6 separate regions of the Homo sapiens genome follow, and regions 2, 3, 4, 5 and 6 are each linked to region 1. The links come from fine-mapping of genetic effects on gene expression. A gene starts in region 1. Each other region holds a variant in brackets. All regions are shown on one strand. Distances are between the middles of the regions. Region 1 holds the start of CTSH (cathepsin H). Region 2 has its middle 69 kb from the start of TRC-GCA5-1. Region 3 overlaps RASGRF1 (Ras protein specific guanine nucleotide releasing factor 1). Region 4 overlaps CTSH (cathepsin H). Region 5 has its middle 18 kb from the start of ADAMTS7. Region 6 has its middle 32 kb from the start of MORF4L1.

Region 1 (5,172 bases):
ACAGCATTTAGATCTCCGTTTTTGGGTCTCGAACCTGTTCCAGAGACCAATCTATGGCCGTTTTCCCTGGGGAAAATGCACATTTCCTCAACATGGCTCCCTTTAGGGTTTCAGGGGATTCCAGATCTTGATTAAGGGCCCTGCTGCAGCTGAGGGCTTTAGAGGAAGACAGACCTCAACTCAGGACAAGAGTTGGAGGCAGGGTTTGAGTTTAGGACAATTGACTACCAGTTTGCCTCTGGAGAGATTATTCTGGGGCCAGAATAATCTGCTGGTGAACCGTGCCTTACCCTAAAATAGATCCATTCCAATCTAGTCAGGACTTTAAAAGTGCCATAATACCTTGCCTGGATTTACAGCAGGTTTCAGGAAAGTACAGTATTCCCCTGTTTGTTTGTTTGTTTGTTTTAGATGGAGTCTTACTCTGTCACCCAGGCTGGAGTGATCGCCACCTCTCAGTTTCAAGCGATTCTCCTGCCCCAGCCTCCTGAGTACCTGGGATTACAGGCACCTGGCTACCACACCCAGCTAATTTTTGTATTTTTAGTAGAGACAGGGTTTCACCATGTTGGCCAGGCTGCTCTCGAACTCCTGACCTAAAGTGATCCGACTGCCTCGGTCTCCCAAATTGCTGAGATTACAGGTGTGAGCCACCGCAGCCGGTCCCTGACTCCTGTTTTAGTACAGCTCCTGGGCTACAAACGGTTTCTTACAATTTTAAATGGTTAGAAGAAACATATTTCGTAGCACCCAAAAATCCCTTGAAACTGAAATTTCAGTGGCCATAAAAATCATTTATTAGAACCCAGTTACACTGACTCACTTACATACAATCTATGGTTGCTATCACACTACCATGGCAGAGTTAGTAGTTGCTACAGAGACCACCATAAAGCCTAAGTTATTTACCGTCTGGTCTTTCACAGAAAAAGTTTGCCAAGCCCTGCTCTGGAATTCAGACAGCCTCTCAGCGCCAGCCTTCTCCAGGCAGCCCTCGCTTGCGGCAGCTAGGTTTTCCTTAGGCGGGAACTGACCTGGAGCTGGGCGCCCACTGAGGTTTGCAAGGCTGGGGAGCTTTTTAAATAAATAGGTGGGAAGGAATGAGGCAACCCTCTGGCCCAGATTCAGCCTCAGTGATCTCTGTCCCATCCCCTGAGCCTCTAGCTGGGGGAAAGCCCTGTCCCGTTCCTCCAGAGCTCAGGGCACCCCCCCTCCCTAGGTTCTTGGCTCCTTGGGTTGTTTCTTGGCTACTTTTCTCGGTGAAGGGGGCAGGTGGTCTTTAAGTTCAGAGCCTGTGGGCTGAGGCTGGGACCAGGGACAGTAGGAAAGGAGGGAGGCAGTAGGGAAGAGCAGGCTCCTTGCCTTCAGCCAGGGGAGGTGCCTGAGCCCGGGCAGTAGACAGGATGCAAGGGCAGCACGAAGCTGGACCAGTCGCAGCCAATCTGGCCAACAAGAGGAGTCCTGGGGCTCCACCTGACGCCATGGGCCCTGGGGTGCTGTTAAAAGCGCTGTTGGTCTGAGTGCTTTCCCTGGTGCCGTTGCACAGGGATTCACTGTTCCAAACAGCCCGTCCAACCTACTCTACAGATGGGACTCCCAAGACACTACGGGGATCCCCTGTGTGCCAAGTCCCGGGGGAAGCTGCTAGAGAAGGCTGGGACGTCCTTGCTCACCTCTGGCAGGGACAGATCAGAGTCCTCTGTGTGACACTCTGTGTCCCCAGTTGAGGAAGGCGGAAGGAGCTGCGGGCTCCTTTGGTATTCTAGGCTGGAGAGCCACCTGGCTAGGTGGGACCCTGGACACTCAGCCCATCTGCTCCTCTGGTCCTACAAGCCGCCCACCCTCCGAGAACCCCCGCCTATAATGCAGTTTACCCCTCCCCGTGCCAGCACGCAGAGTTCCTGGCCTCTCACCGGGGAAAGCTCTGCCCCGTTCCTCCGGAGCCCAGTGCGCCCCTGGCCAAGTTCTCCCAGCGTCCACTCTAGGGCCTGCTAGCACCCTCTCGGGCGGCGCGCCCTCTGCGTACCTAAGGAGTTCACGCACAGTTCGGCGGCACCGCAGACGGGGACTCCCAGGAGCCAGGCCCCGGCGCAGAGCAGCGGCAGCGTGGCCCACATCGCAGCGCTGGCGGCTTGGCTCTTGCGCTCAGGGTCCGCGGAGGTGGCGGCCCAGAGCGTCAACTGGGAGCGCGGGGGGGGAGCGGCACGAGCGTGGAGGAGCGGCGGGAGCGCGAAGGGGCGGAGCGAGCGCGGGGCGGAGCGAGCGCGGGGCGGGGTGGGCGGTACTCCCCCGAGGCCGGGCTCGCGGGAGGGGGCGGCGCCGACTAACTCGCCAGCTCTAGTTCACCTGTCGGCCGGCCGCGTCGCTCCCTTATCTCCTCTGGGAGGAAGGGCTTATCTGGGTATCAGGCCTGGCTGAGTCCTGGATCTGCCTGGACTGGCTGGCACCGCGCGGGGAGGTCTCAGCCTGGCCTCTCCCTCTCCCAGCCTGTCGCCATCCCCACGTCCCCCATCTCCCTGCGTGTCCCCACCTCGCACCCCCCCATCTCCCTGCCTATCCCCAACTCGCACCCCTCATGTCCCTTCCTGTCCCCACCTCACACCATGTCCCTGCCTGTCTTCACCTTGCACCCTCCATCTCCCTGCCTGTCCCCACCTCGCTCCCCCTATGTCCCTGCCTGTCTCCACCTCACACCCCCATCTCCCTGAATGTGCCCACCTCCCACCCCCTATGTCCCTGCCTGTCCCCACCTCCCACCCCCATGTCCCTGCCTGTCCCCACCTCGCACCCCCATGTCCCTGCTTATCCCCACCTCGCACCCCCCCATCTCCCTGCCTGTCCCCAACTCACACCCCCCATCTCCCTGCCTGTCCCCACCTCAGACTCCCCATGTCCCTGCCTGTCTCCACCTCACACCCTTATGTCCCTGCCTGTCCCCACCTCGCACGCCCCACGTCCCTGCCTGTCCCCACCTCGCACTCCCCATGTCCCTGCTTGTCCCCACCTCGCACCCCCCATCTCCCTGCCTGTCCCCACCTCACACCCCCCATGTCCCTGCCTGTCTCCACCTCACAGCCTTATGTCCCTTCCTGTCCCCACCTCGCACCCCCCATCTCCCTGCCTATCCCCACCATACCCCTATGTCCCTGCCTGTCCCCACCTCACACCCCCATGTCTCTGCCTGTCCCCACCTCACACCCCCATATCCCTGCCAGTCCCCACCTCACATCCCCCCATCTTCCTGCATTTCCCCACCTCACACCCCTATGTCCCTGCCTGTCCCCGCCTTGCACCTCCCATCTTCCTGCCTGTCCCCACCTCACACCCCCTCATGTCCCTGCGTGTCTCCACCTTGCACCCCCATCTCCCTGCCTGTCCCCACCTCATACCCCCCATGTCCCTGTGTGTCTCCACCTCAGACTTTCCCCCACACTCCCCACGTCTCCCTGCCCTGGTTAACCACATTTCCCTGGCTTCCCTTTTGCTTGGAGTGGACTTACAACTGAAGAAGCTAGACGACCTCCTTGTGAATTGTTTTGCCCCCTCAACAGACATTTTAGTCTTTCTGCTGAGGAAGCTACATTAAGAGCTGTAGGGCCATTCTCTGTAGTTTGCAAAGCTAAAGAAGATGGTATGTAAGGGTCTGGGTGTGAGACAGACAGAAGAACGTGCGTTCCAGGCTGAGGAGGCCGGTGCTGTCACTGCTTTGGGTGAGGAGAGGGTGATTCAGACCAGCCTGTGCCGTAGCCTCAAATGCCCAGTGATGCCCTGTTCTTCACTTACATCATCACCTTGCAAAGTGGCATGTTGTTGACCCCCCATTTTACAGATGAGGAAACTGAGGCCACAAGAGTAGATGGTAACTTTCCCAGTCTGTGCGCAGAGAGTGTCTGAACCCAGCCTTGACCTACTGCAGTGCTCTCTGCTCTGGGCTTGCTCTTTCTCTGTCTCTTCATTTTTAAATTTTTATTTATTTATTTTGAGACAGGGCCTGGCTCTCTTGCCACCCAGGTTGGAGTTCAGTGGCATCATCACAGTTCACTGCAGCCTTGGCCTCCCAGGCTCAGGAGATCCTCCCACATCAGCCTTTTGAGTAGCTGGGACCACAGGCTCGTACCATCACGCCCAGCTAGTTTTTTTGTATTTTTAGTAGAGATGGGGTCTCAAACTCCTGGGCTCAAGTGATCCTCCTGCCTCAGCCTCCCAGAGTGCTAGGATTAGAGATGTGAGCCTCTGTGCCCTTCCCTCTCTTTTTAAAAATGCATCTTTCCAACCTGTGAGTAGAGCCAGATCTGAGCTCTCTCGTGGCCTCCCTCCGACTGGTGTTTCATCCCCTGATGTTCTAGCCCAGACTCTGTGTCTCAGGCACCTGGGGAAGCAGATTCCTGGACTTCTTTCCTGGGATATGACCTACTGGGTCTGGGTAGGGCTCAGAAATCTGCATTTAAAGAGCCTCCCCCACAGTCTCTCTCCTCTCCTGTGGCCAGTGTGGCATGTGGACATGGAATCTCCATGGAACCAGGGTGAGCTCCAGCAGGCACCTTTTTTCAGATAAAGCAGATCTTCCTTAGGTTGTGACTCCATCTCTGTCTGGATGCCCCTCTCTGGGTGTGACCAGTCTCTCTGTGCTTTGAGGCATATGTCTCAGAAAAGACCCTGCTCGGTTACTATTTGGAACAGAAGTCGCTGGCCTTGGGATAAAGGTGTCCTTCTAGGCAGATGTCCTGCCCTTCATGTGTACCTGGAATGCTTCACCCCTCTGCCCATCCCAGCCACTTGGAGGATGTCAGAATTGAAAGCTCTGCATGCTAGACCTCAGGCCCCAGAGCTGCCTCCTGCGCTAGGTCCCTGGTGACCCTCCTTTGTGGATCGTTCCAGCAGGCCAGGGCCCCTGGGTGCTGAGATGTGGAGGGCACTGACCTGGTTAATTGGAGACCAATGTTTGGTTCTAGCCCTACTACAGATTCACTGTGTGACCTAAGCAAATGGTTCCCCCCCGCCTCCCCCCCACCAGCCTCAGTTTCCTCATCTGTAAAATGGAGCAAGTATCCCTGCTTTCCAGGGTAGTTAGATACGGTCATGCAGTTTAAATATAATTATAGGTAAAATACCTGGCCCTGAGCATGGCACCAGAATAGAGACTCCCCCCATGCATGGGCTTTTCTGATGCTC
Region 2 (5,314 bases), 870 kb after region 1:
ACTGTAGCATTCTCAAAGCTCTGTGTTTCCAGCAAAGGGGGAAATGACAGAGTCCCAGGTCCCATCTAACTCCCAAGGATTCCTGAGCCAGTAGCTCCTGCCTCCTAGTCCTTGGGCCCCTGTGACAGCTCCATGGAAAATATAACCTCCTTCTGATATGAGCCCTTGTTGTACATGCTGAGAACAACAGCACTGCCAGGCAGCAAGTGTCGCAGAGGGACTACCCTTGGCCACAGCATAATGGCTCATCATGGCGTTACAATTCCATCTGAGGCTGGGAGTTTCATCCAAGACCAGCAGCCAAACGTTTAAGGGTTTGTATCAAGACAAACATAATTATGAGACAGAAAGGGCCTATTAGTTCTACTATGTAATTTTAAATCTCAAACTATCAAAACACACACACACACACACACACACACACACACACTAAAAAACCCCTCTTCATCTTCTCATTTGAGAAGGCTGTAATTATTCCAGGGTCCCTAACAGCTCACTCAATGGCTGGTTAAGCACTGCTTCTTAGCTGACAAGACCCCATTCCATGTTGGTTCAGGTCAGATGCAGGTGGCTGGGCCAGATGACCGGAGGAAGCCCTTGGATTCCATAAGCTCGAGTGTGGGACGCTGGATAGAACATGACTACCTTGTTTGTTTTTAATTAGGAAATTGAAATTGCCACTAACAGGTTTCTGCACATGTGGGTCCAAGTGTGCACACACTGGCATTTGTGTGAAGGCATGAGTCTCCAGGGACATGTGTGTGGCCGTCCATGACCGATCATCCGAATGCTCTTCTCTAAGTGTAGATTATCTCAGGGCATGAGGACACCCTTCACAGCCTGGGCCTCCCTGCCAGCTCTGTCTCCACACTCTTATCCACTTGGTGCCACATATGCACAGCCTTATGGGTCCTGGTGTTGGAAAGGAAAGTGCCCTGGGCAGCAGGCCAGGCCGCCAGCTGATTCACCGGTCAGCACTAGGCAAATTGATTTACCTCTCTGATGTATCCCTATTTCCCTCTCTGCAAAACAAAGACAAGAATATTTAATCCATAGGGTTCATGGGAGGATTTGATGAGCAAATATGTGCAGAAGCATGTTGCCAGTGTGTTTATTGTGTAGTCATAATAATGGAACAGTAGAGTATGATGCAGTAACAGTGCTTGTCTTAGTTTGCATTCTTCCACAAGTAGACTCCGTGATAAGGATTCAAGGCCAAGTAGTTTGTTTGGGGTGGGGAGTCGGAAGAAGACAAAGAAGAGAAGTCAGCCAGTAAAGAGTGCCGTGTCAAACCAGCCACCGTTATGGGTGACAGGAGCATACCCCAGAAGAACACTGTGGACAGTGGTGTGGAATACACTCCTCAATGTTACCCCTGCCTGAGGGAAATGATGGAGTTACCGTCATCTGCCCTGGCCAGGATCTGGTGGGTGGTTAGTTTCTCAGCACTTGCAATATGCTGTACACAAGCGCCCAGAGCTGCAGACGCCAGTATTTGGAATGTGGCCAGTTCCTGCTGAATCCAAGACCTGAGGGCCAGGAGCACGGGCTTGGCAGCAGCTGCTTCAAGTTGGATCATTGACACTGCAGAGCCACGTTTCACAACCAAGGAACTAAACTCAGGGCAGACTTGGATTCCAAAACAAGACGTGCAAAAAGGGCAATTTCAGGAGGAAGATGAGCCCAAAAGGGAGATCTTTCAGGCCTCATGGCATTTGTGCCTCTCTTCACAAAAATAATTTTTTTCCTGCTCTATGTAAACCTTGTACTAAGTGCTGCAGATACAGTGCTGACCAAGACAGAATCTGCCCTGCCCTCCTGGAGTTCCAGTGGGGATGCCTGCCTTAAACCATCACGAAAGCAAATAAGCAATTCCAAATAATAATGAATGATAAGTACATGTGAGTGTAAGTTGAACTGTGGACGAAGGTGAAGGGATGTCAGGGAAGACATCTCTCAGTGACATTTGAGCTCAGACCTGAAGGATGAGTAGGGGTGGTGAGGTGAAGGGGAAGGAAACTCCGAGCAGATGACTTAGCATGTGCAAGGGCCTGGAGGCAAGAATGAGCTTGGCACTCTCCCTGCACTGGTGAAGGGAGCTGGAGCCTGGTGAGAGGGAGGGAGGGGAAATGAGGCTGGAGAAGTAGGGAGGCACCAAACCAGACAGTCTAGAGGCATGAGAAAGAGTGGACTTTATCCTAAGTGCTGAGGGGGCCAATGAAGCATTTAAAGCAAGGGAGTGACCTGATCAAACTCAAATTCAGGACAGTGCCTTTGTGGAAACAGGATCCCTGGAGCAGCTCTGATCATCAAATGCTCTCTGAGCCCAGCTTCATGTGGAGTGTTGGGGGTGACCACACTCTGGGAGATCTGATGGGCATAGTACATGGTAGACATGCTGAATTCTGTAAGAGAGGTCCAAAGAAAAAGGCTCAGAGGAGGTGAGGAGGGGGATCCAAAGAGCCCTGCGGGGGGAAATGGCATCTGAGCCAGGCCAAGAGAGTGGGTGATGCTGGACCTGAGTGTTGGTGTGGAGAGGGTATTCCAGGCAGAGGTGCCAGAGTGAGTAAAGGTGAAGCTGACCAGGCAGTTGTCCTCTCTGCTCCCCTAGGCGGTGGGGCCCGGGCAGGAGGTAGCCTGAAGGGGCACAGCTCCTCTACTCACTTGGCCACCATGTTCAGCTTCTTGGCTGCCAGCGCAGGTCCCAGTGATGGCTTAAGCACCTGGACTGGCTGCTCTGATCCCTGTGGGGGTAATATGGTCACTCAGGCTTGGAGATCCAAGATACCTGAGAGTCAGCAGGAAGCCACCAAGGGCATAGCTGGGCATTGGTTGGGGAGGCTGAGTGGTGGGGTCATTTACCTTCTAAGTCAAACTCACCCTGGCCCCAGTCAAACCCAATCCAACAAGCAAAAAAACAACAACAATTACTTTTCTGTTGGAGAATTTCAGCAAACCTCTGAGTGTGTGTGTGTGTGTGTGTGTGTGTGCAC[G/A]CGCGCATGTATGCACATGTGTTTCATTGTGACTATGCATCTGGAGGGGTTTGTGAATGTGCTCCCATGTCAACGTGCATGTAAATGACAACAGCTCACGTTCACTGAGCTTGCCACATGCTCTATGTTCTCACCTGAATCCTTCTATTTAATCTCCACCTTATTAAAAGAGAATATTGTCGTCCCCACTTACAGATGAGGAAACTGCATGTTAGATTAGTTTCCACAGTGGGATGTGAGCTAGACTCCTATGGGCAGAATGACTTTTTGCTCCTAGAATTCTAAATCATGCATCAACTCTTAGCAGGAAAGAGATTTTCACCTTTCCTCAAGGTCATGTGGCAGAGATAAGAACCCACTTCTTTCCTGTAAAGCCCTTCAAAACATTGGCTCTGAAATAAAAGTGTAACATTTTCTAATGCAGTCTATTATCAGACGACTGCCACAAACATTAGGAAGATGCACGCAGTCCACTCCAGAGAAAGAAAAGTACTCTGGTGCTGCACAGCATTAAATGGCATGTCTCCTGACTCCTCTGCTTTCTAATAAAGGAAGCGATGACTCTGATCTCTGAAGACACCTGTTCTAAACCCACCATGTGACTTACCTCTTTAAAAAACAAACAAATAACATTTAATTTGCTCGTAAAGAATATCGTTTTTAGGTTTCCAATGTATTTAAAAATTGTAGGTAAAAGGCATTCAAATCATCTTGGCTTTCCAATCTCTTAAATCATATCTGCTTTATGTCGGGCATTTGACAACCCAAACTGACTTATAAAGTGCTCATGTTAATTAGCATGGAGAAATTGTGTATCCGTGTGTGTGTGTGTGTGTGTGTGTGTGTGTGTGTGTCTGAGTGTTTGTATGTGTGTCTGTGTGTGTGTGTATGTGAAGTTGCTAGTATTCCCTTTTGCTGACTCCAAATAAAGCCCGGAAAGGCTTTGGAAGTCTTCCCTGCCCCTTACCCTTTTCCCTTCTTTCTGAGAATTCTTGAAGCCTTCAGAGCAGGGCCCGGCACACAGCAGGCACCAGGAAGTGTCAGCTAATGGTCTAATGACGGTGACGGTTGGCACCATCACCACCATGTCCTTTCCTCCTGTTCCTACTGGGAAACCTGCATCCCCTCAGCCCACAATAGGAAAGAGCCTCCCATGGCCCTGCACACCCTGTATTTTATCCTAGAAGCCAGCAGAGTCCCTTCTCACCATGGCCCCCTGGATCTCTCCGCTTTCACCACCTTGGCCTTCCCTGACTCCCTCAACTTTGCTTCTCCCTCAAACGATAGACCCTGCACCCTCTGTTCCCAGCCTGCACACCCTTCCTCCTCTCTTCTCCCAGTTAACTCCCGCTCGTCCTTCAGATGGCTGCATCGGCATCATCTCCCCAGGAAGCCTGCTTCCATCTCCCCGACTTAGTCCACTCCCCCTATAATGGACCTTCACCACACCATGTCCTGCTCCTTCAGAGTGTGTGTCACAGGGAAAGTTCACACTTGTCTGGTGATGACCTGCCCCTCTCTAGAGCATCACTCCTGTTAGACTGAAATTCCAACAAGGCAGAGCCATGGAGCCCCAGAACCAAGCACAGCTGATCTGGAACATAATCGGCACTCAGTAACATTGGTTGCATGATTTTACAGAAAGGGGTTTGAAGTAACAGTGCGAGAAGGAAGGGACTAAAAGAAGAGTAACAGTGATGGGAGAGAGAACAAGGCCAGATGCTCACACTGGCTCTCCTTCATCCACCCTCTAGGCCTCTCCACCCCTCAGCCTGCCTCCTTCCCCAGCCAGGAGACGCAAATCTGTGCTGGGAGCTTCAGAGGCCATCTGGCTGCAGCACGGTCACTGCTTTGAGCTCTAAGGATGCACCTGGTACATCTCCAGTGACAAAGTGATTCCAAATAATACCCAGGTCCTGTGTCCAACCCTCCTCTCTCCACTCCCTGCCCTGAAAGGGAGTCTCATCACATTCCAGCACCATCTGCTTGGGCACAGCGTGCCAGGCCCTGGCTGAGGGCCCCTGCTGGCAGCAACGGTTCCTGGGCCACCATGGAACCAGCACCCACAAGAGGCAGGCAGTGTCCAGACACATGATCTGGGTCAGGGACACAGTGCCAGCTGCTGAGTCTCATGGAGGACAAGGGGGGCGAGATGGAAGTGTCTGTGGGTGGCACAATGGTGGAATAGCCAGCTCTAGGTGAATCTGCCCTAAATTCAAAACTGTCACACAGCAACGAAGGATGGTATCCTGCTGGCAAAGGTGTGCCCTGATTCCAAAGGGTCAAATTAAGGAAGGAATCCAGGCATGGCAAGGTGGGGA
Region 3 (5,314 bases), 44 kb after region 1:
CATTTACAGATGAATTAAAAATTACAGGGCTTTATCGCTAAGAAATCTTCTCAAAAACAATTTCTAAAGGATGCTCATCAAGAAAAATGAATTGTAAAACTACTTAAGAATGGAACTACTACTTAAGAGAATCAGGAAGGATAATAACACAAAGTAGTACATGTATTATACCTCTTAATTAAATTGAAGTAGTAGTTAAAATTTTTTTCCATCAAGAGAACATGGAACTTAAAAAGAATTTTATATAAAAGTTATACTAATTTTTGAAAGAAATAGATCAGTCAAATCTTCCAGAGAAGAAGGATAAAAGGAATATCTTCCAGTTTATTCTATGAAGCCAGTATTACCTTGATACTGAGACCAGAGATGGATAATATAAGAAAGGAAAATTACACACCCATTTGTTTAATATACCATGACCACATTGGGTTTGTCCCTGGAATGCAAGGATGATTGAATATTAGAAAAAAAGTATAATTGTCATTTACTATATCAACAGAGCAAGGGAGAAAAACCATATGACCATCTCTATGGATGCAGAAAGAAATATTTGATAAAATTCTGTATTTATTCATGGTTAAATCCATTAGCACCCAAGGAATAAAAGATAATTAAAAAAAAAAACCTGGTAAAGGAGCAAACATCATTCCACATGGGGAAATATTAGAAATATCTCCTTTAAAACCAAGAAGGTGGCCGAGTGCAGTGGCTCACACCTGTAATTCCAGTACTTTGGGAGCTGAGGCGGGTGGATCACCTGAGGTCCGGAGTTTGAGACCAGCCTGGGCAACATGGTGAAACCCTGTCTCTACTAAAAATACAAAAATTACCTGGGTGCAGTGGCATGCACCTGTAATCCCAGCTACTCAGGAGGCTGAGGCATGATAATCACTTGAACCCAGGAGGTGGAGGTTGCAGTGAGCTGAGATTGTACTACTGCACTCCAGCCTGGGCGACAGAGGGAGACTGTGTCTTAAACAAAACAAAACAAAACAAAAAAAACCAAAAAACCCCACAAAAAACCCAAGAAGGAGACACATGATCACCATGTCCATTCCATGCTGTTGTGGAGAGAGACGGGACTAGGGTGAGGCAGTTGAGGTGTGGGGTACAAGTGCAGAAGGGCGAGTAGCTCCTTCGATTTTGCTCTCTGGGAACCTTGCTTGCCTTACACCAGTACCCCAGCTTGGCCATGGTCCTGAAGATCCTGGCCAGTACCAGTTAAGAGGACAAAGAAATTAAAGGCAAAAGGACCAGAAAACAGCAAATAGAACTGTGCCAGGGAGAGACGAGGAAAATCATTGTTGTGCCAGCACACATCCTGTGTATCAGAACCAAATGGTGGATTTGAACAGAGATGGCCAAATGCCAGGTCGTTACAAGGGCAGCTTCTGAAGTAGACCGTGTGCGTTCAAAATTGTACTCTGCTGTGTAATGTTGGGGATGAAATTTCCCCTCCTCAAGCCTCAGTTTCTTCATCCACAAAGTGGGCATGGCAGGATTAAATGAGATGATGCTTTTGAAGCACAGCGTCTAGCATGGGGTGAACACTCAGTGAATGCTCACTTCATATTCTTGTCTTTCACTTGCTCGACTCCTGGGCACACAGTGGGACAGGGAAGGGAGGGGACAGTGATTTGTTGCCTGGTGCTGTAAGGTGTGGTTGGATCAGGCCTCTGTCAGGTTATGTTTCCCGAGGCTTGGTCTCTGTCCCTCTTTCTCTCCTGAGAGGCACACGAGTCTCCTTTCTGCTGCTGTGCTCACTGCAGGAACCACTGGGTGCCCAGGCCTAGGAGGCCCCAAAGGGCTCCTCCCCTGAGCTGCAATCTCTGGGTCTTTCTTGTTTCTTCTAGGCTGCTGAGGATCCTCCCAGGATATGGTGTGCTGGCGGCTGGGGTTGGTAGGATGTGGCCCTGGCCAAGGTGGTCAGGGCAAGTGGAATCATGTGCTCCCACCACCGGCCCTCAAAGGCTCTTTCCTCGTGTTGATGATTAAACTCAGAAGAATGAGGATGCTGAGTGCAACTGTTCTCAGGGCTGTCACGAGGCTGGGAGTGGACCCGGCTCTGTGGTTCAGGGGTTGGAACTTGCACACATGTGGGGAAGTTGCTGGGAGGGAGTTTTTTTTTTTTTTTTTTCCTCACACAGCTGATTTGCACTGT[G/A]TAGCAATGGAAGCCATGAGCTACCACACACCAGTTAGGAGACCTCAGCATTTGCCCTTCCAGAGTCTTGGTTTCTTTGTACCTAAAAATGTGAGGACAGCCCCCATCTTTTAGTTGATGTGAGCTTTCAATGAGATTACTATGCACAAAAAGCTCAGTGCTAGGCACAAGGTAGGCACCCGGTTAGGGGGCAGTGGATATTCTTATTAAAGAACATTGCAAATGCTCCCTGTGGATGTGAATTGTGCCTCAGAAGGCTCTGGGACCTGTCTGCCCCCCAGTTCTCTGCTGCTCCCATGTTTCTCTGAGGAGGGATTCTGGGAGCTGGGGGTGTGTGATGCACCCATCTGAACTTAGTGTGCCAATCAGAGTCAGTCCAGGCCCTTTGAGCTGCTTATGCCAGGCCAGTTTGCAGGTCCAGTGCTTGGTCCCATCTCAACAGTTCTTCCCCAGGAAAGCTGGGGCTGGGAGGTCTAGAGAAGGGGGCTGGAGGAGCTGGATATTGGGCCATCCTGATCCTAGCCAGGGAGATTCAGGAGCCTTAGTCTCGCCCAGCACTGTGGCCTCCTAACATTAAAGAGAATGTTTAATTAAACATTCGCTCAGCACTGTGGCCTTCTAACATTAAAGAGAATGTTTAATTAAACATTCGCTCAGCACTGTGGCCTCCTAACATTAAAGAGAATTAAACATTCTCTTTAGTGTTATCCCAAAAGACCATCTTACCACAAGAAAGGCAAGAAGAGGGGCAGCGAGTGGGACATCATTGCCAGAGTAGCTGAAACAGCCAAAACCTTAGGAGATTCCGAGGGTTCTGGATAATGTATGAATTAGAGGGAAGCTGTCTGCCATTGTCCAGCCAAATATTGCTTGTTGCTAATACTGAGATGAGGTTTAAAAATAGGAAGCATAGCAAGGTCTTCATTCCTTTCCTTCTAATCCTTCATTCCCTTCTGTTCTCTTTGCCACAGACTCCGCAAAAACCCTGCTCCGAGGAGTAACCCCCACTTAGGAATCACAAGTTCTGGGTGAGGGCTCACAGCGAGCCAATGCTGGGCTGAATGTCTTTAGATGACCACGCAGTTAATCCTCCTATGACTGTTCCATGGTCAGCCCCACTTAATAGGAGAAGAGACTGAGACTGAGGTGAGGCAACCAGCCCGAGGCCACATGGCAAGGGGTGGCAGGGCTGGAGAGGACCCAGGAGTCTGGTTCCAGCCAGGTGTATAGCCCGTTCTCTACCCAGCCTCTTGAGCGTCTTGCCAAAGAAAAACCCCAGTGAGAGAGGCGCTCCCATCCATACTCACGTCATTGAAGTGCTTAGTGGTTTTCATGATATAAGGGGTCCTTTCATTCTTTTCCAGTTTCATCCATCCTTGTCCGAAGAACTCCCTGTAGGAAGTAAGGGGAGACCCAGGTGGAGGGGGTGAGGTTTGCCTTGCTGATTTCATTGCTCCATGCTTTTTATTTTATTTTTTGGCTTTTTGAGGCTGTCATTTCTGGGGGAACAACCTTCTGCAGAGCCCTGGAAGGAAGGAACCTTGGGCTCAAGTCCAGCTCTGCCTTGTCGCAGCTGTGTGGCCCCAGACAAACCCTTTATAGCTCAGGGCTTCAGTTTCCTTATCTGTAAAATGGGAATCAAGACAATCCTTTCCTCACAGGTTTACTGGGAGGCTGAAATAAGGTGTGGGAAGGCACACATGGTGGAAATAATTTGTTATGAATCTTGTTTTCTGACAGGGAGAATTCACATTTTAGTCACTGCAGCAGCTGGTCTGTAGGATGAGGGAATAGAAGGCCCTAAAAGGGGGCAGATAAAAGGCTTAAAAAGCCTGCAAGCCAAGCCACAGGCTCCTGACATCATAAAGTGACAGGGAGAGGGGACCTCGGCAGAGTCCTGTGGGCAGAAGGGGCCGGGGAGGTGATTTGTGTTTGAAAACACATCCCGCTTCTCCTCCTAGAGGGACATATCAGGAATATCATCTGTTTCTATGTCCAGGAGATGTGACAGGTTTCCAAAGTGCCGACCCTCTCTATTTACACGAGGCAGCACCCATGCTGGGGAGGGCTGCGAGAGTGCCAGGTGGGGCTGAGGCCAAAAGCCCCACAATGATTCAAATCCGGTGAGCCCAATTCTGGGAAACCATTCTGGGACCATTGTTAGGAATTCAGACATATTTGTTGCAAGGATGTTTACCGCAGGGATAAATATAAAAGTGAAGGCTGAAAACACTCTCGTGGCTTAGTAACACACTGTTAGAGAATGCTGTGTACTTATTAAAAATAGTGTTTACAAATGCCCTTTTGGCATAGCATCAGATGAAGGAAGAGGGATAGAAAATTACATAAGTAGAATAATTGCAGTGAACACCAGGGATGACTGAGGCCAGAACAGGTAACAGCAGGCCTTGGGGCTTCTTCAAAGTCCACGCCTGTCCCCTAAATCAGCTACTGGAGGTCACTGGACCTACACACGTGCCCACGCTCTTGCCTGTGTGCACAGTTTCTCACAGGTACATGTGCACACACACATGAACACATGCTCTTTTCTAGATACTCTCTTTCTAGGAGCTCTGAGTTAGAGATGATTCCAGAAAAGTGTGTGTGTGCAGCTGACAGGTAAGGAGAGAATTTGGTGGGCAGGAACGGGAACAGGCTTCTCTCCCTCATTCTGCTGACCCAGGCACTATTGTTTCAAGCTGTGGAGGGTCCGTGCAGCTCTGGAAATTCACTGCGTGTGCTTCCAGGGTGCTGTCCAAGACAGTGCCTGAGGAAGCGGGGGGAGGCGGGTGGTGCCTGCAACACTTACTCATAAGGAATCTTCTTGAAGACGAGGTGATCTAGCAGGGTCAGCTGCTCCGCGATCTCCAGGGCTGAGTGGTTTTCAAAGGGCTCAGCCTTCACGCCTTCAGCCTGGTTTTGAGTTGGGGGAGCAACATTTTGAGTTAGGCCCATGACGGACACCTCCTGGATTCCCAGCTGCCTCTGTGGGGGTATCTCGCCCTCGAATTGGGTGGGCGGGTGGACGGGGTATGACGCTGCCTCGAATCTGATGAGAGGGTGGATGGAGTATGATGAGGGGAGGTGGAGGGAAGGGGACGGAGGGAGATGGGCCCCGCCCTGTTGTGCCGGTGTGTGCAGCCCAGTGCTCGG
Region 4 (5,314 bases), 24 kb before region 1:
TAAGCCGTGAGCCACCACACCAGGCCTGCAGGCCTTTTTATAATAAAAGACTCTCATCATTGTCTGGGTTTGAGACATTCGGGGCTCTTATGGAAAGGAGAACTCTGCTTCAAAGTCTCAGGTCTGTGTTCCAGCCCAAGCCCACAATCCCTGCGGAGCACCTAAATCCCTCAGGGGAGGCTAATTTTGAAAACAGTTATTTGATTTTTGTGGTAATTTGAATTTCTTTGGAACCTCACCCAGGACCCTCCCTTTAAATGAGTATTTAATTGGAATGTGGTTAATAATGTTCTATATTGGATCATTAATTGTGACATTTGTATCAAACTACTACATTCATCGCAGAGAGATCTGGGTGTGGGTGTGCAAGAATTCTCCTCTGTCTCCACAGTCATTCTATATCTAAACCCGTTAGAAAAGAAAATGTTCACTTTAAAAACAATATAGAGCTGGGTGAGGATTTAGGTTACATTGTTTTTCCAACCTACTGTTCAATTTCTAGCACTATTTTTTTTTTGAGACGGAGTCTCGCTCTGTCACCCAGGTTGGAGTGCAGGGGTGCGATCTCCACTCACTGCAACCTCTGCCTGCCGGGTTCAAGTGATTCTCCTGCCTCAGCCTCTCGAGTAGCTGGGATTATAGGCATCCGCCACCATGCCCGGCTAATTTTTGTATTTCTAGTAGAGACAGGATTTCACTATGTTGGCCAGGCTGGTCTTGAACTCCTGACCTCGTGATCCATCTGCCTTAGCCTCCCAAAGTGCTGGGATTACAGGCGTGAGCCACCGCACCCAGCTTCTAGCACCTTTAATTGAATGGTGAAAATGGACTCGTCTGTGACGGATGTATCGAATTCTTACTTCCTAGACCTGAGTGAGTAATCTATTCTTAATTGGCACACTGTTTTAAGGGTTAACATTTTGTAAATTTTAATATGTGAAAAAAATCCACCCTCATTGCTCATTTATAAAACTACCTTGGCCTTTTTTCCCCCAGATAAAAAGGATAACAGAATTTTATTGGGATTTTAGTTGGAAATATACCATCTGTACTTTTATTTCTGGCAATAATCAACTTATTTATGCTAATCTTTCCATTCAAGAATATGGTGTGCCTCGGCCGGGCATGGTGGCTCATGCATGTCATCCCAGCACCTTGGGAGGTCGAGGCAGGTGGATCATGAGGTCAGGAGTTTGAGACCAATCTGCCAACATAGTGAAACCTCGTCTCTACTAAAAATACAAAACACTAGCCAGGTGTGGTGGTGGGCACCTGTAATCCCAGCTACTCGGGTGGCTGAGGCAGGAGAATCACGTGAACCCGGGAGGCGGAGGTTGCAGTGAGCCAAGATCATGCCATTGCACTCCAGCCCGGGCAACAGTGTGAGACTCTGTCTCAACAACAACAACAAAAGAATATGGTGGCTCTCCATTTATCTAAGTCTTCCTTTATAGTGTTATTAATTTAGTAATTTTCTTCATATAAGACTTTTTGGTGGTTATTCCTAGCTGCTGGTTTTGTTGCAATAGTAAAGTTGCAATAGTAACAAAAAATAGTGTATTTTTTCTGAGTTTTTGATTTTTTTTTCTGGTATCCAGCCACTTTCAGAACTCTTTCATTAGTTCTAAGTTTTGTTGATTCTCCTGAATGTTTTTAGCCACATTATCATGCTGTCTGCAAATATTAATTGGGTTTATTTATCACAGCAGCCAGATCTTCCAGATAGATGTAAGCAAGAATGGTACCCTTAGACTTATTTGCCATGTATCTTCAATGGGAATCCTTTTATACCACTGACTTCAATGGGAATCCTTTTATACAACTGACCATTGATTTGAGAATCTTTGTCAAATTCAGAAATTATGCTTTCAGGCTGGGTGCGGTTGCTCACACTCCTGTAATCCCAGCACTTTGGGATCACTTGAGGTCAGGAGTTCGAGACCAGCTTGACCAACATGGTGAGACCCCATCTCTACTAAAAATACATAAATTAGCCAGGAGTGGTGGTGCATGCCTGTAATCCCAGCTATTCAGGAGGCTGAGGCAGGAGAATCGCTTGAACTGGGGAGGTGGAGGTTGCAGTGAGCTGAGATCACACCACTGCACTCCAGCCTGGGTGACAGAGTGAGACTACATCTAAAAAAAAAAAAAAAAAAAGAAAGAAAAAGAAATTATGCTTTCATTTCATGTTAGTTTTTTTTTAAATCTAGAATAGAATTCCATCCAATGAAGTCTATTATTATTATTATTTTTTTTTTGAGGCTGGAGTGCAGTGGCATGATCTCAGCTCACTGCAACCTCCATCTCCCAGGCTTAAGCGATTCTCTTGCCTCACCCTCCCGAGTAGCTGGGACTACAGGTGTGCACTACCACTCCTGGCTAAATTTTTTTTTTTGTATTTTTATTAGAGACGGGGTTTCACCATGTTGGCCAGGCTAGTCTCAAACTCCTGACCTCAGGTGATCCACCTGCCTCGGCCTCCCAAAGTGCTGGGATTATAGGCGTGAGCCACCATGCCTAGCAAGGTGATTGTTTTTTGTCTTATACAGTTGTGGTCTTATGTTACTAGAATTTTCTAATAAATTAAACTATATTTGCATTATCTAAATAAGCCTTATCATGAACATATATATTTTTCAAATATTCTCAAGCCTTTAGCTTTTCAGGAAGCCCAAATAAGATGACAGCTTTTATCATTAAGAAAGTCTGTGAGCCATAGGACAAAGAGCTGGTGGACTCCAGCTTGTTCTACAGACATCCCAGAGCCCGGAGGCTTCAGGAAGCAGCAGCAACTTCATGGC[C/T]GCCCTCTAAACAGAGATCAAGATTTCTCAAAAGGCAAGATAAGGGAAGGGATGGTGTGGAAACGACAGGAGCATCTGGGCACGTTTGAAATAAATAAGGGGTTGGTGAGGAAGGGGTGGGCAGTCTCATGTGGAGGTGGGGGGCAGAGTCTGAGTAGGAGTAGGCAGCTGAGACTGGGGAGGCCACACAGAGAAGTACAGGCTTCTGGGCTGACATTGTGGGTTTGAATCCTGCCTCTGCCGCAGCTTGGCCCGTTTTTCTCCTTCCTCCCCACCTCTCCACTCAGGTTTGGGACAAATAGTCAAGATCTCAAATTAAGCCTGCTCTTCATCCTGGATACCCCATCTGGTGGATAATACCGCCAGCACCCCCACCATCCTCCCAGCCAGAGCCTGGACACCCCCTGATGCCTCCCTCCTGGGAGACTGAGTGGCGAGGACAGACCTGGTTTGAGTCATGGCCCAGGACCAGCATGCTCCATCTGGGGAGGTGCTCACTCAATGTTTATTGAACAGCGAATACAGAAAAGACAGTCCCTGGAGCTCTATATGTGGAAAGTAGCCCTTCTGGACAGAAAGAATATTCGTGGTCCATGTGGTTTGAGTCTGTTAAGAAGGACACTAAGGCACATGGCTGGTGATCTTTGCGTCATAGACACGGGTGAGCTCATGGTGGAACTCCTCCTTGTCTGTAGGTTTCCAGGCTGGGCACAGAGGTGAGGGCAGAATGTTGGGGGTCCCAGTGGATCTCCCCACAACTTCCTCCAGGGCAGGATTTCCACCCAGGCCCAGGCTGCCCGTTCCTCTCCTTCTCCGCCAGTCTGCGCTGCGGCTGCCACGGCTCACACCAGAGGGATGGGGTAGGAGGCGCAGGCAGCCAGGCCACACATGTTCTTTCCGCGCTCGATGAGGAAGTACCTGGGCAGAAAGAGGAGCTGAGGCCCGGCCGGCGGTCTCCCCACCACAGGCCTTTCTAGAATGTTTTGCTGCTCACCAAGAGCTGACTTCAGGGGTGAGACCCTCTAAATTTATTCATAAAACAGTAGCATTCGGCTTATTTGATCACCGGCAAATCACGGACCTGACTTTGTGAAGAATTCATTCTTCCCTCTCCTTAGCTGCCAAATGAATGATCCATATCCCACTTCTCCCGAAAATTTACCGAGGGCCCCCTCTTAGCCCTGGCCGGGCCCTCACACAGCTATTTTATCACCAGGAGCCCGAGGGAACAGGAAAGCTCTCCTTTTCAGACAAGGACATGGAATCTGGGAGGACAGGACAAAGGCACAGCAGCATATACACCCAGGCCGCCCCATGCCAGCCTTTTCTCCCGGAAGGAGGGGCTGTCAGTGATCAGGGGTACATTTGTTGCTTTGATTTCTCAAAGACGGACCCTCCCAGACACTGATTTCGTGCCAGCAGAGTTCCAAGTTCTGAGCTGTTTTCCTAGCAGTCCTTCTGAGCCAGCTGGCCTCCTGCTCTCCCTGCAGCGTCCTAAAGACCTGGGGCCCTGTGAGGGCTGCAAATGGGGGCTTGGAAATGTGGAGGCTACATTCTCATGCTCCCTTTCCCCCTGGCCTGGCCTAGGGCTTGGCTGACCAGCTCGTCTGTGGAAGCCGTAACTCTGAGGTGGAAGTGATGCCCCCAGGGCCTCCAGGCCTGAGCAACATCCCCCTCCCAGAAGTGGGACCTGGGAGCTGCTTACCCGTTCATTCCCCACTGGGGACCCCAAGAGTTTTTCACGATCCAGTAAGGGATCCCATTTTTTTCTCCATACCCAACAGCCAGTACTGCATGGTTTACTTTATCTGGAGTTTTATGGCAGGAAGTACTGGAAAACAAAATTCAAAAAGAGGTGATCATATGGGAAGGATAAAAGCAATGACAGTCCCATCCAACAACGCCTCTTTGAGCGCTTTAGAGCAATGTTCCCCACAGCGGACCAGGGAGGCATGTAAGGTGGTGATGTAATCACATTTAGTCTCCGTGAGAGAACTCCTTTCAGTTCTTTTTTTCTTTTGAGACGGAGTCTCACTCTGTTGCCCAGGCTGGAGTGCAATGGTGCAATCTCTGCTCACTGCAACCTTCACCTCCAGGGTTCAAACGATTCTCCTGCCTCAGACTCCCGAGTAGCCTGATTACAGGCGTGCACCACCACACCCAGCTAATTTTTGTATTTTGGGTAGAGACAGGGTTTCATCATGTTGGCTAGGTTGGTCTCGAGCTCCTGACCTCAGGTGATCCACCCACCTCGGCCTCCCAAAGTGCTGGGATTGCAGGTGTGAGCCACCGCACCCGGCCCTTTCAGTTCTTTTGGTTCTTCTGCTTCTGTCAGGAGAATCTCCATATGGTGCTGGCCCGTGTCTCACCCCTGACACTTTCTACTCCCTCTTTCCTGGCAAGGAGAGAGCCACCTTCCTGCTGCACCTTCTGTAGGCAACAGTGTCTGGCAGACTTTAACACAGCTTTGCTTTGTTGCCACTGCATTTATTAAATATTACTTTATACCTATG
Region 5 (5,314 bases), 120 kb before region 1:
CCTCAGGGAAAACTGGACAGGCTCTTCAGAGGGAGGCTTCTGTTCACCTGCTGGGTGGGCCTTTGGGCAAGTCCCCTCTCTGAGCCTGCTTCCTCCTGTGTAAGTCAGGATCACATTCCTTGTCTCACAGAGCAGTCATGGGGACCAGATGAGATGATCCTTATAAAATGCCTGGCACTGGGCCTGGCACATAGTAAATGCCCAGCCAATGCAAAGAAGCTGCAGTGAGCTATGATCAGGCCATTGCACTCCAGCCTGGGTGACACAGTAAGACCTTGTCTCTAAAAACACTCTTAGAATTAGAAGGTGTCTCATTTTACAAATGAGAAAACAGACCAGAATGGGACAGTTACTTCATTTTACACAGAGTGTTAGGGCACAGAGACTAGAACCCAGGCCACTTGACATTCAGTGACAACTTCCATTCAAGGAAGAAAAAGTCCCAGGCATCAGGCCCTGCTGGAAGGAAACCCTGGGAAAGCATGATCTAATTTTGCAAACTTTCGATCAGATTCCCAGTTCATCCAGGCTCTGGCCTAGTCTATGTCTTGGTAAGTAGGTTAATCTCCCCTTTCCTAACCGCTGGGGAGAGAATGTCACTTAACTGCAGATTCCCTGTCTCCTGGGCAAGCAAGGCAGAGGCCTGGGAGTGATGGGGAGCCTCTGGTGGTGGTGATTGATTGAGGGCAGGAGACATGAGGGAGATCTGCCCTCTAGGGACTACCTCCCAGCTCCTGGTGGCATGTTGTGCCTGTGTTCTTTTTTTTTTTTTTTTTGAGACAGAGTCTCACTCTGTCACCCAGGCTGGAGTGCAATGGCGTGATCTTTGCTCACTGCAAGCTCTGCCTCCCAGGTTCACGCCATTCTCCTGCCTCAGCCTCCCAAGTAGCTGGGACTACAGGCGCCCGCCACCATGCCCGGCTAATTTTTTGTATTTTTTAGTAGAGACGGGGTTTCACCATGTTAGCCAGGATGGTCTCGATCTCCTGACCTCATGATCCACCCGCCTCGGCCTCCCAAAGTGCTAGGATTACAGGCGTGAGCCCGGCCTGTGCCTGTGTTCTTGATGGAGGTAGGAAAGAAGGAAAAGGTAAGTGCACAGTATGCCAGGGTTGACATACAGTGGGAGCTCCAGACTAAAGTTGGCAGAGAAGGTCCAGAGAGGGCCTTCAGCAAAACGGGAGGTCACTCTAGCCTCTCAATAATAATCACAAGAAGAAGAGTTCCGCACCAGGCACAGAGCTGAAGGCTTTCTCTCTGGAGGCTGGTTAATTCTCCTATGACCCTGATGAGGGGTTATCAGCATCTTCTTTTACAGATAGGCAAGATTAATTAGTTAACCCCCGGCCGGAGGTGATGGCTCACACCTGTAATCCCAGCACTTTGGGAGGCCGAGATGGGTGGATCACCTGAGGTCAGGAGTTCAAGACTAGCCTGGACAACATGGCAAAACCCTGACTCTACTAAAAAATACAAAAATTAGCCAGGCGTGGTAGCAGGCACGTGTAATCCCAGCTACTTGGGAGGCTGAGGCATGAGAATTGCTTGAACCTGGGAGGCAGAGATTGCAATGAGCTGAGATCCCGCCACTGCACTCCATCCTGGGTGACAGAGCAAGACTCCATCTCAAAAATAAAATAAAATATGAAAAATAAAAACTGGTTATCCCCAAGACACATACCTGGTAAGTGGTATAAAGGGGACCATGGTCTCCTCCTCCCCTGGGAACCCTCCCATCCCTAAACTCATACCCCTTCCTTGAGTCTCCTGCCCTGCCCTTCAGTCTCTGTCTTGTTACCCTGCTTTGTTTCATTGTCACTCTTTCCCCCATGAGTTCATCTCATTTATTTGTTTGTCTTTATCCCCCAGTAGAAGACACACTGCAGGCTGCATCCTGCGTGCTTAGCAAGGTGGTTGGCACATAATGGGCATGCAATGAATGCTTTTGGAAGTAAACAGAGTGGTGGCAGAGGGAAGTCTTTTCTTAGGAAGTGATATTTGGGCTGAGGCCAGAGTGCTGAGAAGGAGCAGCCACATGGTAATCTGGGTGAAGGGCATTCTTGGCAGAGGGAACAGCAAAGACAAAGGCCTGAGGCAGGCCAGAGTGGTGTATTTGGGGAAGGGCCTGTGTGTCTGGAGTGAAGTGAGCAAGGCTCGGAGTGGTAGGTGACAAGGTCTAGGAGGTGGGCAGAGAGACCACAGACAGAGGACTTGTCAACCCTGGCATACAGTGGGATTGCCTAGGCACTTTTAAAAATACCAGGGCTGGCTGGGCACGGTGCCTCACACCTGTAAACCCAGCACTTTGGGAGGCCGAAGTGGGTGGATCAGCTGAGGTCAGGAATTCAAGACCAGTCTGGCCAACAAAATGAAACCCCATCTCTCCTAAAAACAAAAATTAGCTGGGTGTGGTGACGCACGCCTGTAGTCCCAGCTACTCGGGAGGCTGAGGCAGAAGGATCACTTGAACCCAGGAGGCGGAGGTTGCAGTGAGCCGAGATCATGCCACTGCACTCCAGCCTGGGCAACAGAGCAAGACTCTGTGT[C/CAAA]AAAAAAAAAAAAAAAAGCTGTAGTGGGTGCCTCTGTCATGAGGCCTTGTAGTCCAAAGCAGGAAATCTGGATTTTATTCTAACTGTAGGAGGAAGTCACTGGAATTGGAAGCCAAGGCAGGATTGGGATCAGCTCAAAAATCACCTCCTCCAAGAAGTCTTTCAGGATTCCCCAGGCTTTAGGCCCCTCCTCTGTGCATGCTGAGCATGAGTGCTGGCCCAGTCTTAGTCTCCCAACACTGGACTTTTTTTTTTTCTTGAGATGGAGTCTTGCTCTGTCACCCAGGCTGGAGTGGAAAGGCCTGCCATCTCGGCTCACTGCAACCTCCGCCTCCCAGATTCAAGCGATTCTCCTGCCTCAGCCTCCCAAGTAGCTGGGATTACAGGCGCACACCACCATGCCCAGCTAATTTTTGTATTTTAGGTAGAGACGGGGTTTTACCATGTTGGCCAGGCTGGTCTCAAATTCCTGACCTCAGGTGATCTGCAGCCTTGGCCCCCCAAAGTGCTAGGATTACAGGCATCAGCCTTTGGGCCTGGCCCAGCACTGGTCTTTTAAACCCTGTTTGCATGTCTCTTCCTCTGACTGCTCCTAGATTAGTTGCTTCTCCGTCTTCAGCCCAGTTGTAAGCAGTGCGGCTGACCTTGGGAAGAAGATCAGGGATACTTGCAGAGCAGACCACAGTGAAGGTGGGAATGAAGGGTACCCATGGCTAAAGCAGGGGAGGAGAAATGCCTTATCAGGAGCAGGGGTTCAAGGAAGCAGGGCTGGCGGGCAGGGGGCTGCCAGGCCCCACTGGTCGGACTTGGGCACCCCTCCTTGGTCTTCAGTTGGCTATCTCGGGGCCCACAGGGGAGGTGGAGGGGCGCACTGCCTCCACGGGAAGAATTTATATGACCTCCCTTCAGCGCCCCCCGAGTATCAGAGTCCCTCTGGGAGGCACTGGGAAGCTGGAGCTGCGTCCTCGGGCGGGAACCGGCAGCTGCGGACCCACACCTTGGGTGAATTGCAGACGCTGTTTCCTCCGGTTCGGGCTTCCGGCCCCCGCGTCTCAGTTCACCCGCAAAGGGTCCCCAGTTCAACGCTAATTCAAGGGTGAAGAAGCAGCTACTGGAAATAACAGCTCGGAGGCCTTTGGGGTGGGCCACGGGTGCAGCTGGCCAATCGCAGGCTAGCAGGTGGTTCCCCAGTTTTTTAAAGGTGCTGCCGCGAGGCACTGCAGACCCCCTAGTTCTCTCCCAGCGGCTGCCGGTGTTGGAGTGGATCTGAGCGGATCCCTGCATCGCCATCAACGGCGATGGCATCCGCCAGAGGCAGGGTCGAATCGCCCGAGCTGTCTGGGCCGTGCTTCCCTTCAGCTGGCCGGAAGAGGCGTCGGGGGCTGCTCCCTAACAGCTCCCTGGGCAACGGATCAGAGAACACTAGCCCGGCCCGGAGTCCCCGCAGCCTGCATGGCCTGGACGGGGTGGCGGGGGCCGTCCGGGCGCCGGCGCTGCGGGCTCTGATTGCGGGCGCCTACTGGGCCCTGTGCGCTGTAGGCCTGGTGGGCAACGGCTGGTGCTAGTCCGGGTGAGGTCCCAGCAGTGGCGCCGCCACTGGCTGCTCAATTGCTTCCTCCTCAATCTGGCAGCCACTGACCTGCAGTTTGTGCTAACGCTGCCCTTTTGGGCCGTGGACACGGCGCGCGACTTTAGCTGGCCCTTCGGGGGTGCCATCTGCAAGGTGATGCTGACGCTCACCGTGCTCAACATGTATGCCAGCATCTTCCTCCTCAGTGCCATGAGCGTGGCACGCTATTGCATTGTGACTGGCGCGCTGCCTCCGAGCCATCGGGGCGCATCACGGGCCAGCTGTGTGTGCTGCCTGCTCTGGGCTATGGCCGTCCTGGCTACGGCGCCCACCGCCCTGTTCGCCACGGCAGCTAGGGTGGGGGGAAAGCACTCGTGCCTGCTGCGCTTCCCCGCCGGCGGCCCCAAATGGCAGGTGCTCTACCACCTGCAGAAGATCGCAGTAGCCTTCGTGCTGCCGCTGGCCACGCTGGGCACCTGTTCGCTGCTGCTGCGCTTCCTGCGACTGTGGTGCGCACGCTGGCCGTCGAGGGTCAGGCGCCGACTGCGTTCCCGAGTCACCTGTGCGCTGGCCTGCGTGCTACTGGCCTTCGTGCTCTGCTGGCTGCCCAGCCAAGCGTTCACACTCTGAGGGGTGCTGATCAAACTGAACGCCATGCCCTTGGACCGCGCTTACTTCCTGGCTCAGGCCTACCTCTTCCCGGTCTCCATCTGCCTGACGCACTGCAACAACAGCCTCAATCCGCTGCTTTACTGCCTGCTGCGGCGCCACTTCCGACAGGGCCTTCGAGAGCTGTGTAGCTGAGCCCAGCGGCCGGTGCCCCTCCGAGCAAGCTCCCACGGCAGCGCCCCAGCGGCTGCACTCTTCCAATGAGGGCCGCTTGTCGCTGCGTCAGTATCAAGGGCATGGGGTAAAGTGGCTCATATCTGGTTGGGGCGATGACGTCATGAAGCAGGGTCCGACGTCAAGGCCGGTATTCTGGGGTCTCTCAGAAGGTCAGGGTTGGTCCATTGGTGGAGATTACTTAAGATTGAGAGTACACCATTAATCTGTGTATCCTAAGGTGAGTCCCATCTCCTCTGGCTTCAGTTTCCCCATTTGAAAAGTTTGGGGATGAGATGAATCCTGGGGACTCTGCCAGGTCTAGCACTTTGATCCTCCTAGCACAGCCTTCGCAAACAGTATGAGCTCCATTCAT
Region 6 (5,314 bases), 41 kb before region 1:
AATAGTTTTCTGGATTAAAATAATCATGCTCCTTTCTCCTTTAAAACAAATGGTTTCCTGTATGATAGTGTTTTGAATCATGGGAGTAAAGGGCAAGTTAGGTTAAGGTACAAACTCTGAAGCTAAACACAGCTTCTGTAGCGTCCAGCCCCATGGGGCTTAGGGGGTGTTCTCCCCGTGTGCAGAGACGAGAGATTGTAAGAAATAAAGACACAAGACAAAGAGATAAAGAGAAAACAGCTGGGCCTGGGGGGGGCCACTGGGTGTGCTGATATTTATTGCATGCAAGACAAGGGGGCAGGGTAAGGAAGGTGAGCCCTCCAAGTGATTGATAAGGTCAAGCAAGTCATGTGATCACAAGACAGGGGCTCTTCCCTTTTAGGTAGCCGAAGCAGAGAGGGAAGGCAGCATACGTCAGCATTTTCTTCTATGCACTTATCAGAAAGATCAAAGACTTTAAGACTTTCACTATTTCTTCTACCGCTATCTTCTAAGAACTTCCAAGAGGAACTAGGGGTACGGGAGGAACATGAAAGTGGACAAGGAGCGTGACCATTGAAGCACAGCACCACAGGGAGGGGTTTAGGCCTCTGGATGACTGTGGGCAGGCCTGGATAATATCCAGCCTCCCACAGGAAGCTGGTGGAGCAGAGTGTTCCCTGACTCCTCCAAGGAAAGGGAGACTCCCTTTCGTGGTCTGCTAAGTAATGGGTGCCTTCCCAGGCACTGGCGTTACCGCTTGACCAAGGAGCCCTCAACTGGCCATTATGCAGGCGTGACAGAAGGCTTACCTCTTGCCGCCTTGGTTACTTCTCACAATGTCCCTTCAGCACCTGACCCTATACCTGCTGGTTATTCCTTGATTATATTAGTAGTACAATAAAGAGTAATGTTAAAAGCCAATGATTAATAATGTTTATACTAATGACTGATAATGTCCATGATAATCTCTGTATCGAATTTGTATTATAACTATTCTTATTCTAGCTATTTTCTTCATTATACTGAAACCGTTTGTGCCTTCAGTCTCTTGCCTCGGCACCTGAGTAATCCTTTGCCCACAAGCTTCCCCAGTCTTCACATCACCATGCTGTGTTTCAGTCAGTTCTCCTTTGCTTTTTGCTTCTAAGCTTGCTTTCACATGCTGTTGAATGGAAGAAACAAGTTGGAGAACAATAATACAGTATATGAAAAAAATATCGTATTTCCTAGGGTATATACATATGTGGGTTGGTTTTTTTTTGTTTTTTTGTTTTTTTTTTTGAGACGGAGTCTCTCTCTGTCGCCCAGGCTGTGCAGTGGCACGATCTCGGCTCGCTGCAACCTCCACCTCCTGGGTTGAAGGGCTTCTTCTGCCTCAGCCTTCTGAGTAGCTGGGACTACAGGTGCCCACCACTATTCCTGGCTAATTTTTGTATTTTTCGTAGAGATGGGGTTTTACCATAATGGCTAGGCTGGTCTCCAGCTTCTGACCTTGTAATCTGCCTGCCTCGGCTTCCCAAAGTGCTGGGATTACAGGTGTGAGCCACTACACCCAGCCAAATACAGTTTCCTCTTAAATGCATAAATGAGCAAAAAAAAAGGAAGAGACTAAAACTGAAAACCCCAAAATTTTGCCTGCCTTCAATCTAGGTAATACAGAGATACTGCATACAAAGTATCTTTAAAATATATAAAAAGAATTGAAAATGTGAGAAAAGGGAACAAAATAGACTTAACCAAGACCAGCATAAAGTAATGGCATACTTTGTAAATAATTCAGAGCAATCTTCCACTGAAGACAAGAAAATAAGCAGAGATATAAAACATCTGCTTGAAGGCATTGGAGACCTAAGAAAATGGCGAAGACTTAATGGGCCAGCATTTGGTAGAGAATTGAGTTTCAGGGCTGTAAGTCCATATTCAGTGTGGCTTTTATTTTGCAGTTGTTTGCAAAGGTCAGAGAGGCTTTTGGTCTGGTTCTTTTGATAGTCTCACTTGGACTAAAGGACATGATTTGGAGTCTGATATCTGCCAAGAAATTAGGACCCCAAAAGGATATACCCCAGGAATAAAGATGAACCAAATTTAATTACTTCTTCAAACAGTTTTACAAATATATGCAGCAAATAGCTAGTTTTGCGTGAGACAAAACTACATGAAGTCAGGTGTGGTGGTGTGTGCCTGTAGTCCCAACTACTTGGGAGGCTGATGTGGGGGGATTGCTTGAGCCCAGGAAGGCTGCAGTGAGCTGATTGCCTCACTGCACTCCAGCCCGAGCAACAGAGAGACCTTGTCTCAAAAAAGAAATAGAAGTACTTGGAGAAAACATCAAGAAACTCATCTGAGAAACAGAGACAGGATATAGGCTGTTGTAGATCCAGTTTACTTTAAGAAGTAAGTGCTGGTGGGGTATAATGTTTCACGCCTATGATCTTAGCACTTTGGGAGGCTGAGGCAGGAAGATCACTTGAGCCTAGGAGTTGACGATCAGCCTGGGCAACATGGCAAAACCTCATTTACAAAAAAACACAAAAATGAACTGGGCACGGTGGCTCACACCTGTGGCCCCAGCTACTCTGGAGGCTGAGGTGGGAGAATCACTTGAGCTCAGGAGGTGGAGGTTGCAGTGAGCTGAAATTGCACCACTGCACTCCAACCTGGGCAACAGAGTAAGACCCTGTCTCAAAAACAACAAAGTGCTCTACATCATTCCTTAAGTAAGGAAAGTCAGATACTGACATTTTAAGACATTTAAAAAAGTATGCTTACTATATTTAGAGAGATGAGATAACTTAAACAGCAAACTTTAAAAAGCATATCAGAATTCCACATGCAAAACACAGTAGCTAAAATAGGAACTCAATAGGTTTAACAGTGGGAAGATAGGTCAGGAAACAAATACGCATATTGAGGGACAGAGACATTAAGGATAGACAATGCATTGGTAAACCTAACTGAAAATATAATTATTGCAGGAGCGAATGGGGCAATAATCGAGATTGATGACTTTGCAGAACTGTTAATAAAGTGTTAACTTTAAGCATGACAAAAATAACCAGTTAAAGATATTAAGACTAGGCACTGCAGCTTAATTAGTGTAATCCTAGCACTTTGGGAGGCAGAGGTGGGAGGATTGCTTGAGCCCAGGAGTTCAAGGCTGCACTTCAGCCTGCATAACAGAGCCAAGACGTCTT[TAAAAAA/T]AAAAAAAAAAAAAAAAAGCGTATATAATTAAAACCTAAAGGCAATTTTAAAGGCATCCCAATTAAAAAGACTTGACAATGCAAATAATGGAAGCCAGGAGGCAATGGAGTATGTTTAGAAAGCTGAAACAAAACTGCAATTTAAAATTCTAAACTCAGTAAAAACCCTTCAAGAAAACATTTTCAGACAAAACTCGAAAAATGTGTTAGAAAATTTACCAGCAAACCCAAACTGGAGAAAAAGTTATTTTGTTTTTTGAGATGGAGTCTCGCTGTCACCCAAGCTGGAATGCAGTGGTGCAGTCTTGGCTCACTGCAACCTCCACTTGCCGGGTTTAAGCAATGCTCCTGCCTCAGCCTCCCAAGTAGCGGAGACTACAGGCACGTGCCATCATGCCCAGCTAATTTTTTTGTATTTTTAGTTAACCAGGATGGTCTCGATCTCCTGACCTCGTGATCCGCCCGCCTCGGCTTCCCAGAGTGCTGGGATTACAGTTTGTTTCTTAAATGTTCATTGCAAGGTGGACTGTGAAAGCATATCACAATTTAAAAAAATTGTTACATTAGAATTGTTAGATTAGAATCATTTAGTATTTGCATGGATATTTTGCTCATACATGGTTTTGTAAGATTTTGCATTGGTCATTTGGAAAATATTTACTGAGTCACGCAAATTTTTCAAATATTGACCTGCCTTACACAATATGGAAGACTGATGCAAGGATTTCTGAGGAGGAGTTATGTAGATGGGCCTCTTTAGATCCAGAGTGAAGATATTAGTGTCTTGTATGAAAGTTCACCAAAGGGCATTCATGGTAGACAAGGCTTCCATGTGTCATCTCGTGTAAGAAGAATTGTAGGTGTTTTAACCACGTCCCCAGCTAGGGTCTCATTGCCAGACGTGAGTGAGCCTTCTGATGATTATAGCTCCCAGTCTTTGAGCCCTCCCAGCTGATGCAGAATGGGACAGAGATGAGCTGTCCCCTCCAGCTCCTACCCTAATGGCAGACTTGTGAGTCAGATAAATAATGTTCCAAGCTACTAAGTTTTGGAGTGGTTTGCTATGTAGTAGTGGGTGACCTGAACACTTGGCTACTTGCCATTGCGATTGCCAAATCTGCCATTCCCTGATATGGTGTATTTCCTGAGGTTACAAGCCAGCCACTTGGTGACAGGTTAATTACGTTGGACCCCTTCCATCATCAAAGGGATGCCAGTTTTTCCTCACTGGAATAGACATGCATTCTGGATATCTGGATTTATTAATATAATATTAATACTTTCCCTGTCTAATGCTTTTGCTAACACAATCATCCGTGAACCCAGAAACCTTTATTCATGGTATTCCGTGTAACATTGCTTCTGGCATACACTATCAGCCTGAGAAAATGGAATGAGCTATTGAGGAGTCAGTTGTGGTGCCAGTTGGGAGACCTGAAAAGTTGAGGTTCTTAATTAAAGGATGCAGTATATGCTGTGAATATGGCCCATAGATGGTGATCTCTCATGGAATGCACAGGTTTGGAAATTAATAGGAGTGGCTTCTCACTATCACAAACCAATTACAGAATGTGTGCTTCCCATTCCTGTAACTTTGCGTTCAGTTGGTATAGAGGTTTTGGTTCCCAAGGAGAAATTCTGTCATCCAGGCAACATGATGGGTCAGTTGGATTGGAAGTTAGATAGCTATTTTGGTCATCTCATACCACCGAGCCAACAGGCAAAGAAGAGAAGTACTGTACTGGCTGAGATGATCGGCTCTGATTACCAAGAAGAAATTTGGGTGCTGCTATATACAATGAGGAGAGAAAGGACCATGTCTGGAACCCAGAGGATTCTCTGGGATATGTCTTAGTACTTCTGTGTTCCTAGGTAAAGTTTAATAGAAAAGTACATAAGTTAAAAAACACAAGACCACTGAGGTTTCACATTCTTTTAGGAATGAGTTTTGAAGTCACCCTATCTGGTGACAAAACAAGACCAAAACCAAAAACAGCTGAGGTGCTGGCTGAGAGCAAAGGAAACATGGAACAGGCAGGAAGAGGAAGAAATATCAACTACATAGGGTCTTAACGACCAGTTATGAAGACAAGATGAAGACAAGGACTATAACAGCTTTGTGCCTTTTTTCA

What was found.
Region 2: its variant is fine-mapped to the expression of CTSH in uterus (GTEx, PIP 0.99).
Region 3: its variant is fine-mapped to the expression of CTSH in whole blood (TOPMed, PIP above 0.99).
Region 4: its variant is fine-mapped to the expression of CTSH in testis (GTEx, PIP above 0.99).
Region 5: its variant is fine-mapped to the expression of CTSH in monocytes (Fairfax 2014, PIP 0.95).
Region 6: its variant is fine-mapped to the expression of CTSH in skeletal muscle (FUSION, PIP 0.95).

Annotation. Positions count from the first base shown.
Region 1 is chr15:78,942,865-78,948,036 of GRCh38, forward strand. CTSH (cathepsin H) reads right to left here and starts at 2,182. Exons shown (of 12, transcript NM_004390.5): 1 at 2,027-2,182. The coding sequence starts at 2,117. RefSeq lists enhancers at 385-434, 865-914, 1,375-1,913, 1,914-2,452 and silencers at 1,303-1,597, 2,035-2,384.
Region 2 is chr15:79,810,707-79,816,020 of GRCh38, forward strand. No RefSeq gene overlaps it. Among named protein-coding and RNA genes, the nearest start is that of TRC-GCA5-1, 69 kb to the left of the region's middle. The variant G/A (reference allele first, on the strand shown) is at 2,994.
Region 3 is chr15:78,986,721-78,992,034 of GRCh38, forward strand. It overlaps RASGRF1 (Ras protein specific guanine nucleotide releasing factor 1), which reads right to left. Exons shown (of 27, transcript NM_001145648.3): 21 at 4,971-5,074; 22 at 3,469-3,553. Among named protein-coding and RNA genes, the nearest start is that of CTSH, 44 kb to the left of the region's middle. The variant G/A (reference allele first, on the strand shown) is at 2,162.
Region 4 is chr15:78,918,487-78,923,800 of GRCh38, forward strand. It overlaps CTSH (cathepsin H), which reads right to left. Exons shown (of 12, transcript NM_004390.5): 11 at 4,507-4,632; 12 at 2,572-3,719. The coding sequence ends at 3,644. Among named protein-coding and RNA genes, the nearest start is that of CTSH, 24 kb to the right of the region's middle. The variant C/T (reference allele first, on the strand shown) is at 2,802.
Region 5 is chr15:78,827,120-78,832,433 of GRCh38, forward strand. It overlaps the pseudogene LOC390614. Among named protein-coding and RNA genes, the nearest start is that of ADAMTS7, 18 kb to the left of the region's middle. RefSeq lists a silencer at 3,873-4,092 and an enhancer at 4,280-4,827. The variant C/CAAA (reference allele first, on the strand shown) is at 2,547.
Region 6 is chr15:78,902,177-78,907,490 of GRCh38, forward strand. No RefSeq gene overlaps it. Among named protein-coding and RNA genes, the nearest start is that of MORF4L1, 32 kb to the left of the region's middle. The variant TAAAAAA/T (reference allele first, on the strand shown) is at 3,177.